Regions from separate parts of the Homo sapiens genome. Here region 2 is linked to region 1. Evidence: fine-mapped expression QTL. A gene starts in region 1. The other region holds a variant in brackets. All regions are shown on one strand. Distances are from middle to middle.

Region 1 (4,403 bases):
AGAATCACTACGCAAGAGCATCCTGGATCACTAGCAAAAAAAAAAAAAAAAAAAAAAAAAAAAAAAAAAAAAACAAACATTAACAATAAAAATTAAAATGACAAGCCTTGGGTTCTTTCTATTCAGAAATTTAACTTTAATATCTGTTAGTCATTAATTTTTGCTTTTCAATGGGAAATAATTTAAAGTACCATATTGTGTGCTATCCTCTTGACTGCAGCCATGATTATTTGAGATCTAATGTAACATTAGAATACTGCACTATATATTCTTATGTACTATAACAAATGCTAGATGAAGCTGAACTCTATAATTTCGTGGGTGATGTTCACATGCAGATGAATGACTGACATAATGTTTGAGATACAGAAGATGTAATGGAGTTTATAATGTTGTCTTTTATATGCAAGGGTCATAAGCTCAATATCCTTTCAATTAAAGCATATATGGAATTATTTTTCCAGCACTAAATTATATGCATCGCCTACTCATGGCCTCCTTACAAGTACTAACTGTATTTTGGAAAAATTTTTTGGTTTTAAGTTTTAAATTAGATACAGACCTTTTACCTTAATACAGTTAAGCTAAACGGCCTACATAAGGAAGATAGAGCTCATAACCTTATACAGAAAACGTCCTGAATAATTAAAATAATAACATTCAGACAAGTTCATGAACATTACTTACATTATATAAGACTTTTCAATGACCACCACCTGACACAAAACCTTAGTATACCTTTTCCAAGAGAAAACAATGTGGGGAAGGGAAGTGAATATTAAATCTTACCACTGGTTTTTGGAAAAGTTAGTATCTTGCTGACAGTTTCCCTAGAACAGAAGTAGCTTGCATAGACTTCAAGCAATATTTTATTGACATATGAAACCTGAAAAATCTTAATAGATTTCTCCATATTACACAGATTATGTCTTTCAAAATAAGTTTTGTTTTCTCGCTGGTTTGTTAAATGATGCTTCAGGTTCCTGAAGTGGTTTGTACTTAAAACCATCCCACATTTTGATTCCCATCCATTCTCCACACACAATTCTCTCCATGAATTTTTAACGAGGAATAGTCCTGTATAAAAGCCATTGAGTCAGAGGGGGACACATCAATTAAAAATAAAACCTGGAAATATCATTCAGCAATCTGCTTTTAGATCTTTTTAAGCTGATGAATTTTATTTCAGTAAAAACAATGAAAAGTAAAAATTCTCCATCATTTTCGAAAGGAGAGACATTAAAAAATAGAGGGGCTAAAAGGCAAAAATGGAAGAGCACGAAACAACTGATCATGGCTGGCTATGCTAGAATTAAAAAATAAACTCTTAAAATAGGACCAACTAACATTTACAAATGATAACGCATCAGAACTGTTCTTTTTATTTTTTTGTAACAGGCAAGAAAATGTAAGGGTAATCTTAAAATACACAGTTAAGGCTTCACAGGAAACACATGAGTATACTACTCACAAAATCCTTGGAATAAACGCTACTTGCTCATTCAAGGGCATCATCATTCCACTCTAGATGGCCTCTTAAAGTTTTTTCTTACTCATGTAGGCAGATGTAACTGCTCTTCTATGCTTTTATGACACCTAATAATATCTTCATTATAACAAGTAGCACATTATAATTGTCTTTCTCTGTCTCCCCAGCAGCCTGTAAGAAGGTCAGAACTGGGTCTTTTCAAATATATATCCACAGTCCCTGGTATTGTAGGAATTATAAAAATGTCGCAACTAATGGGTGTCCTGCCTTGGGTTTAGCAATCATATATTATTGACTTCTCAGAATCCTGCAAGGTAAACAGTATAGATGAATTACACTCAAAGAGGTCAAGTAGTCGATGCTCTGTGAGTGGCAGGTTAATAACGGAAGTCCCACAAGGTAGGTCCACAACTTGGACCCACAAGATAATGACAGTGTGGCTGTGTAAGACTATAAACCACAGAGATGATCTCAGTAAGGATGGAAAACAGATTACGTTTTTAAAAAGGTCATCCTCATGAAAAGGAAAATGATTCCTACAGAGGAATGACAGCTCGCGAAGCTTCTTAAAGTACAACATTCAAGCACCACAGCACATGCCTAAGGGAAGCATTAGAAGAGATTAGAAGGAAAAGGCCGTGGAGACCTCAATCCCTCCTCCTCCCACCGCGGGCCTGGCCTCCACCGCCACCTCTGCCAGGCGGGCATGGAAGGGGCGACCTCTCCGATGCGCACTGCCGGGCGCGAAGCCGCCCGCGCACCCTCCCCCAGCGCGGCGCGTGCCACTGGCCCGGGAGGCCCAGGCGTGGGCAGCCGGGTACCTAGCTCGGCCACGGTAGCCGCGCAGCCGGACAGTAGGAATTTGCTCGCTCGGGGCCATCTCTGGGTCAGCGGCAAAAGCCTCTCCTCCTCCTCCGGGACGGACATTCAGCAGTAGCGCAAGACGATAACGCACTCCTTCTCGCCGCTGCGCTGCACCGCGCCGCGGCGGCCGCTTCCCTGCCAGGGCGGCCCCTTTTCAACCGGCGAGTGGCCGGGTGAGGACCATTTCCCTCGTTCGGCTCGGCCGGGTGGACCCGCAACCTTCCTAGCAGTCCCAGCTGGAGTGGTCCAGCTGCCCCTTACACCCCAGAATAGAAAAACACAGCGGAGCCCAGGAGGTTACTGGGCAATGTAGTCCGCCGGGCTCCGCTACGTCTCTGATTGGCCGGCCGCGGGTCCCTCTGCGGCTCCGCCCCCGGCCTCCATGGCAACGCGGCTGGTTCTCGCCCGTCAGTCCTAGCCCGGCCCTGCCCCTCCTTGCATTTTTTCCGCGCTGGCTGAGATTCAAAGAGAAGTGGAGGTGGGAGGGAGCGACAATGGAAAAATCACCTGAAAACTGGGACAGAGGAAGGAAGCTACAGTTACGAAGGAGAGCTGCAAAAGTTGCAGCAGAAAGGTTGGGAGTCCCGACAGGTTCCGTAGCCCACAGAAAAGAAGCAAGGGACGGCAGGACTGTTTCACACTTTTCTGCTTCTGGAAGGTGCTGGACAAAAACATGGAACTAATTTCCCCAACAGTGATTATAATCCTGGGTTGCCTTGCTCTGTTCTTACTCCTTCAGCGGAAGAATTTGCGTAGACCCCCGTGCATCAAGGGCTGGATTCCTTGGATTGGAGTTGGATTTGAGTTTGGGAAAGCCCCTCTAGAATTTATAGAGAAAGCAAGAATCAAGGTATGTGGTCGTGGCAGACGGGGTCTCCAGAGGAGACAATGCTTTCTTTTTTAAACTTTCTTTCATTGACTCTTAAGTGCAGGGCTAGAACACGGGGAACATACCTGCTTGCCTCAACTAAAGGATCTAGTCATTTCTGAATTCCTCTACTAACAATTAACAACAATATCCTGTGCAAAATTTTGCGAAAGAAATGAAATACAATTGCAGCGTGCATCGACATTTTTGGAAGTAGAGATTAACTTTTCGTATTTTTACTTCATCGAAGTTAAGTTCCAAATGTGTATGTGTTAAGTAAATGTTTTCAGTAATTGGGAAAGATAAAGTGTAATCCAATTTAAGTTTGTGAAAATGAGTAATTCGTATCCAAATTGGAGTTAACACCAAAGTATTGTACAAATTGCTTGCACAGTTGGTCCGTACACAATAAACAGGCTCTGTATTTTTAGCTGACGTTGTTATTTGATGATGATGTACTCCATTTTCACTACGGCCTGAAGAGACTAGTAATCCTCCTTGTAGTAGATGTTTTTGTCTTGAAAGTATCTTTTAAATGTCTGAGCACTTTAAGGAACAGACCTTTATTAATGTCTTTTAAGTTTTATTCAATTTCCAGTCACAAATATTTTATGGTATTTGATTGTCTAATAAATTTGTATGATATTATAATTATTCTTATGAATTATAATACTTTCTGTGGTGACCCATTTTCCATCTGGTTAGCCCAATTTGTAGAATGAATTTATACGTAGTAGCATTATTTTACCACTGATCATTTGCCTTCAAAATCTCTGAGATTCCAATTTAGTAAAAAACATATAGAAAATTAAAGAGAACTAAGATGAAAATAAAAATAACCCAGAATATCACACCAGCTGTACTGTAAAAATTTAGTGTATTTATATTATTTTGGTCATTTTCCTATGTATTTACAACTATTTAATGAACAACAATGGAATAATAGTATAATACTCTTTTATGTGCTTTTGATTTTAACATATAATGTGAATGACTTTCCTGTACCATGAAATACTTTGAATCTTCCTTTTATGGCTATATTTTGTCATAGGAGGATACAATAGTTTACTTAAATCTCAATAGTTGGGTTTATAGGTTGCTGCCAAACTTTTTTCTTTCAGCCAGTGCTTCAGTGAACATTCTTGCGTGTTTGTGTGCATGTATTGATTGTGTGGTTGTACA
Region 2 (4,403 bases), 49 kb before region 1:
CTCAAAAGTTTAATATGTTGATTAACACTTTATATTTTATAGGACTTCATAAAGATTTTGATCAGTGGGACTGCTTGATTGAAGGAGATGATGAGAATCTTATTCCAGGGACCAACATTAACACAACCAATCAACACATCATGTTACAGAACTCTTCAGGAATAGAGAAATACAATTAGGATTAAAATAGGTTTTTTAAAAGTCTTGTTTCAAAACTGTCTAAAATTATGTGTGTGTGTGTGTGTGTGTGTGTGTGTGTGAGAGAGAGAGAGAGAGAGAGAGAGAGAGAGAGAGAGAATTTTAATGTATTTTCCCAAAGGACTCATATTTTAAAATGTAGGCTATACTGTAATCGTGATTGAAGCTTGGACTAAGAATTTTTTCCCTTTAGATGTAAAGAAAGAATACAGTATACAATATTCATATCAGCCTAAATTTTAATTTTAAAGATGATTCCTTTTCAGTGTCGAAGTTAAAAACTGTTTTTACATTACTTTGACAGACAAGTAGATTAAAACAGGCAAAATCCCAGTGAAAACCTGTTGCAATGATACAAGACTCCCTAAACATAGAGTAAAAAACAATTTCTTGCCTTTTATTATCTACTATGGGCAGTGGAGTTTAATTATAGCAACATGATATTCTAGGTAGAATTTGGCAGCTCTTCTCTTTGACTTTTGGTCACGGTAAGAAAAATTAGAACAAGCAAAAGCCATTGTTTCAGCACAGGATTGGTGGTACTACACAATTTCAAATGATGACTAAAAGGAGTAGAGAAGGGTTAAGAATATTAGAGATGAGGCAAAGGCAGTGGATTAAATTGGTAATTTTTTGACACTTTCTTTAATTCTTTAAGGCATTCTACTTGCTAAAGAAAGGTTCCACAGGTATTACAGCATATAGCAGGGATTCCAGTTAGAATACATTAGTTACTCACACAAAGGCTGTGAAGGATAATAAAACATTCAGAATTACATTTAGCTTCTTCATATTCCAGTTAATTTTATTTAATGTTTTCAATTCTATATGTAGTAGTAAAACAGAATAACACGATTAAATGGAGGTAAAAATATAGCTTAAGAATTTATACTTATAAATATGGGAATCATGGAAAATGATTTTATTTCCCAGGGGACATAAAAATTTATACCACTCATTTGGTACCCTAGTCCTATCTTAGTGGTGTCAGGTGCAAAGTCACTCATTCTGAGAAATTTTACTTCTGTAGCCATTCAGATTAAATTTTTTAAAATAGGGAGTTAAACTCAGCTTGAAATTGAAGGCTTCCTATAATCTGATCCTAATGCATCTTCTCTGAGCTTTGCTTCTGGCAATTCACATTATATTATCTATATGAGTAAGCCAAACTTGTCTATTCATTATTCCAGGAATAAGTAATATACTCATCTACCTCAATTACTTTTAATGCAAACCTCTCTCCCTTCTACTTACGGAAATTATAATGGGTTTTTAAGGTTCATAATTCTATTTCCATTAGGCTTCAGAGTCTGATAATGCTTCACAGAGATACACCTTTACCCCAGTCTCATTTAGCAAACCTTTTCCCTATTCATTTTAGAAATAAGCATTCCAACTGTATGGATGTCCCATTCAACACTTTTTTGTTTGTTTGTTTTTTACAGTCTTTTGTTGGTGGCGCATGCTGATGCTGAAAGGAGAAAATAACTATTGAAAATATCTAATAAGTTAAGGTTAAAAAGAAATAACCTAACATAGTGCACACTGAGTATTTTTCAGGGTAAAGAAAGACACATTTATCAAATGCCTACTCCTTTTCAGGGACTTTATATCAATTATTTCTCATCTTAAAAAAACACTGCAAGAAAGGTTTTATTATCACCACTTTACAGATGAAGATCAAAGTTCAAAATATTACATAATTTGCCCATGTCACATATCTGTTAAGCAGCATATAGCTCAGATCTGTTTCTAAAAGCTAAGATCTATGCTTTGCAAAATCATGTTTAAAAAGTCATGGGCTTCAAAGTTAGGTAGGTCTGGGTTTGATCAAGCCTCTGAGACTCATCAGCTATCTGACCTTAGGCAAGTTATTTAACCTCTTTATGAAGCTTCAATTTTCTCACCTATAAAATATGGATAATATTGATATGCACTTCAAAGTTGATGAATAAAGTGAAAAAATGCATTTAAAGTATAAGCTAAGTGACTAATACATAAGAGCTAACATTTAATATTACTATGCTTTCCCCAATCCTCCATTACAGAGGAGAGATGGAACCAAGTATATTTAAGAGTTCTATTTCCTTTTTAATAAAATGAGACCATCATATTAAGGATAAACTTTATTTAAGGATAAACTTTATTCAAATCTTGTATTAGAATACTTCCAAATTCAAACAGAATGTTAGTCAAATGTTTAGACAAACAGGCAAAGATTCAAAGTCAAGACAAAAATTCTGAAGGAGATCCTGCTAAAAAGCTATCCTAAGTAGAATCAAATAATGTACTTGTCATGAGCCCTTATTTTTCTATTTTAATTTAAACACTGTATTTGAAA[G/T]GTACCAAAATAGTTTTTGAAATGTAATGTGTTAGTAAACTGTTTAGCAAAATAAATCCTCCCAACTAATTAGAAACGTAAGACAATAAAGACGAAAGATCCCAGATCTGTATATATAACAGGATCACTATAAACACACCCCACCATCAACCTGAGACCTAATTTGTTTTCCACCTATATAGAAGTTTTTGAAAATGACAACTTCTTGTGGTTACATGTTTTCAATTTTCTCAAATACTCTGTTGGTCTGCGTAAGATGCCACTTGTTCAAGGGCAGCTTCTGACTGATTGGCCACAGCTATAGATCCACGGTTAAATCTCCATCACCTCCAAACCCCTTTTCTGAAACAAAAAGAGAAAAACTTCAAACTGAGAAAGAAACATACAAACAAAAAAATTTATTTCCATGGGTGTTACCATGACAAATGTAATGTTCTCTAAAAGGGAGAGGGGACAGATGAGTATTCTAATTACTATAGGGCATTATTTCTATAGAAACAATGTTTTATTTTCTTATTAATATTTTGGTTCTCACACTGTACCATCAAATCAAGTTTCTCTAAAAATTATGAAATTGGCATATTTTATATTTTGCTAGAGAATGGTGTGAACAAGGCTGATAATCAATTAGTTCTTTTTCCTTTTTGATTAGTATATATTTTTCACATGATATTAAAGCTACCATTAGCTGATTTTATTCTCAATGTGCCTCAATTCTAAGAACCACTGCATTATTTATGAACAAGAATGTGCAATACCAAGAACCAGCCAATAATTTGAATCTTATATAAACTAAAGATTCAGAAATTCCAAGAGATTATTTAACAAATATCATTTGAACATATGAGCTAATTAACAGAGAAAATTCTTTAAAATGTGAATTTATCACATTCATAATTTAACTTTCAAGATTAATTCAATTAATAAATTTCCTATATTTCAAGAAATCCTCATCTTGGGTTATTTATCTCCATAAGTATATTTAAATTTTTTTACCTAAAGTGGTTTTTCTTCCCTGCTACCTATGTCCAAAGAAATTGATAAACCATTTTTGTTTGAGGGATTCAGCATAACAATATTTTTAAGAAATTGTAATTCTGGGTGATAAAAGTATTTTGTTTTAAAAACACAAGTTACCTTTAATAGTGGTATCACCCACTGACATGAAGTAAAGATCTTTCCCTACTCTTTGGGATACAGCCTAACAAAAGGAACCTTTGAATTGCTATTGATTCTTTATCACGAGTACAAAATAATTCAAATCAGAAATGGAACCACAGATAAGCCAGAAAAGATGTAAACAACAAAATGTATTTCTATCAAAATTATGACAATCTGATTTTATAATGAGGAATCATGTCAAGTACTTTTTCTATTCTTCAAATACTCATTTCTCTAGAACATATCCCTGGAGCACTCTACACAGGGAGTAAAGTACCCTTTTCCAATGTTTAGCTCTCAAATCCCCAACAACTCTGGTAATTGGTGAAGGAGGGAGGGACATCATTGTTCAAGGGGCTGTTATTCAAACACAGTATCCATGTAGAGCCACAGATGCTTTATTAAGGACAATGAAAAGGGAAATATTTCTCCTATATTCCTTTTAACAACCAATAGCATCATGTGCATGCATTATGTGATACAGTAACTAACAAAATACTCTTATGGTAAAATAAAATAACTCAGATAAGAAACCATTTTTTTAAAAAAAGTAATTAGATTCCTAGATCATAGTGACTTGATGTATCATTAAAAAAAAGTCATGCATAATACAACACTCACTTTGTAAGGAAAGCTAGCTCATTTGTAGACAGGTATCCAGAGTTAAGAGCTTCCTCGAATTTGAGGGAAGGATATTTAAATC

The links. PIP is the estimated chance that this variant, and not a neighbour inherited with it, causes the effect.
Region 2: its variant is the best candidate, but not a certain one, in a credible set for the expression of CYP39A1 in cerebellar hemisphere (GTEx, PIP 0.51).

Annotation. Positions count from the first base shown.
Region 1 is chr6:46,651,206-46,655,608 of GRCh38, reverse strand. CYP39A1 (cytochrome P450 family 39 subfamily A member 1) reads left to right here and starts at 2,791. Exons shown (of 12, transcript NM_016593.5): 1 at 2,791-3,203. The coding sequence starts at 3,027. SLC25A27 (solute carrier family 25 member 27) reads right to left here and starts at 2,634. Exons shown (of 9, transcript NM_004277.5): 1 at 2,311-2,634. The coding sequence starts at 2,416. RefSeq lists silencers at 2,197-2,296, 2,727-2,816 and enhancers at 2,477-2,606, 2,837-2,886.
Region 2 is chr6:46,700,336-46,704,738 of GRCh38, reverse strand. It overlaps TDRD6 (tudor domain containing 6), which reads right to left. Exons shown (of 4, transcript NM_001010870.3): 4 at 420-2,881. The coding sequence ends at 2,852. PLA2G7 (phospholipase A2 group VII) reads left to right here. Exons shown (of 12, transcript NM_005084.4): 12 at 43-538. The coding sequence ends at 179. Among named protein-coding and RNA genes, the nearest start is that of TDRD6-AS1, 14 kb to the right of the region's middle. The variant G/T (reference allele first, on the strand shown) is at 2,540.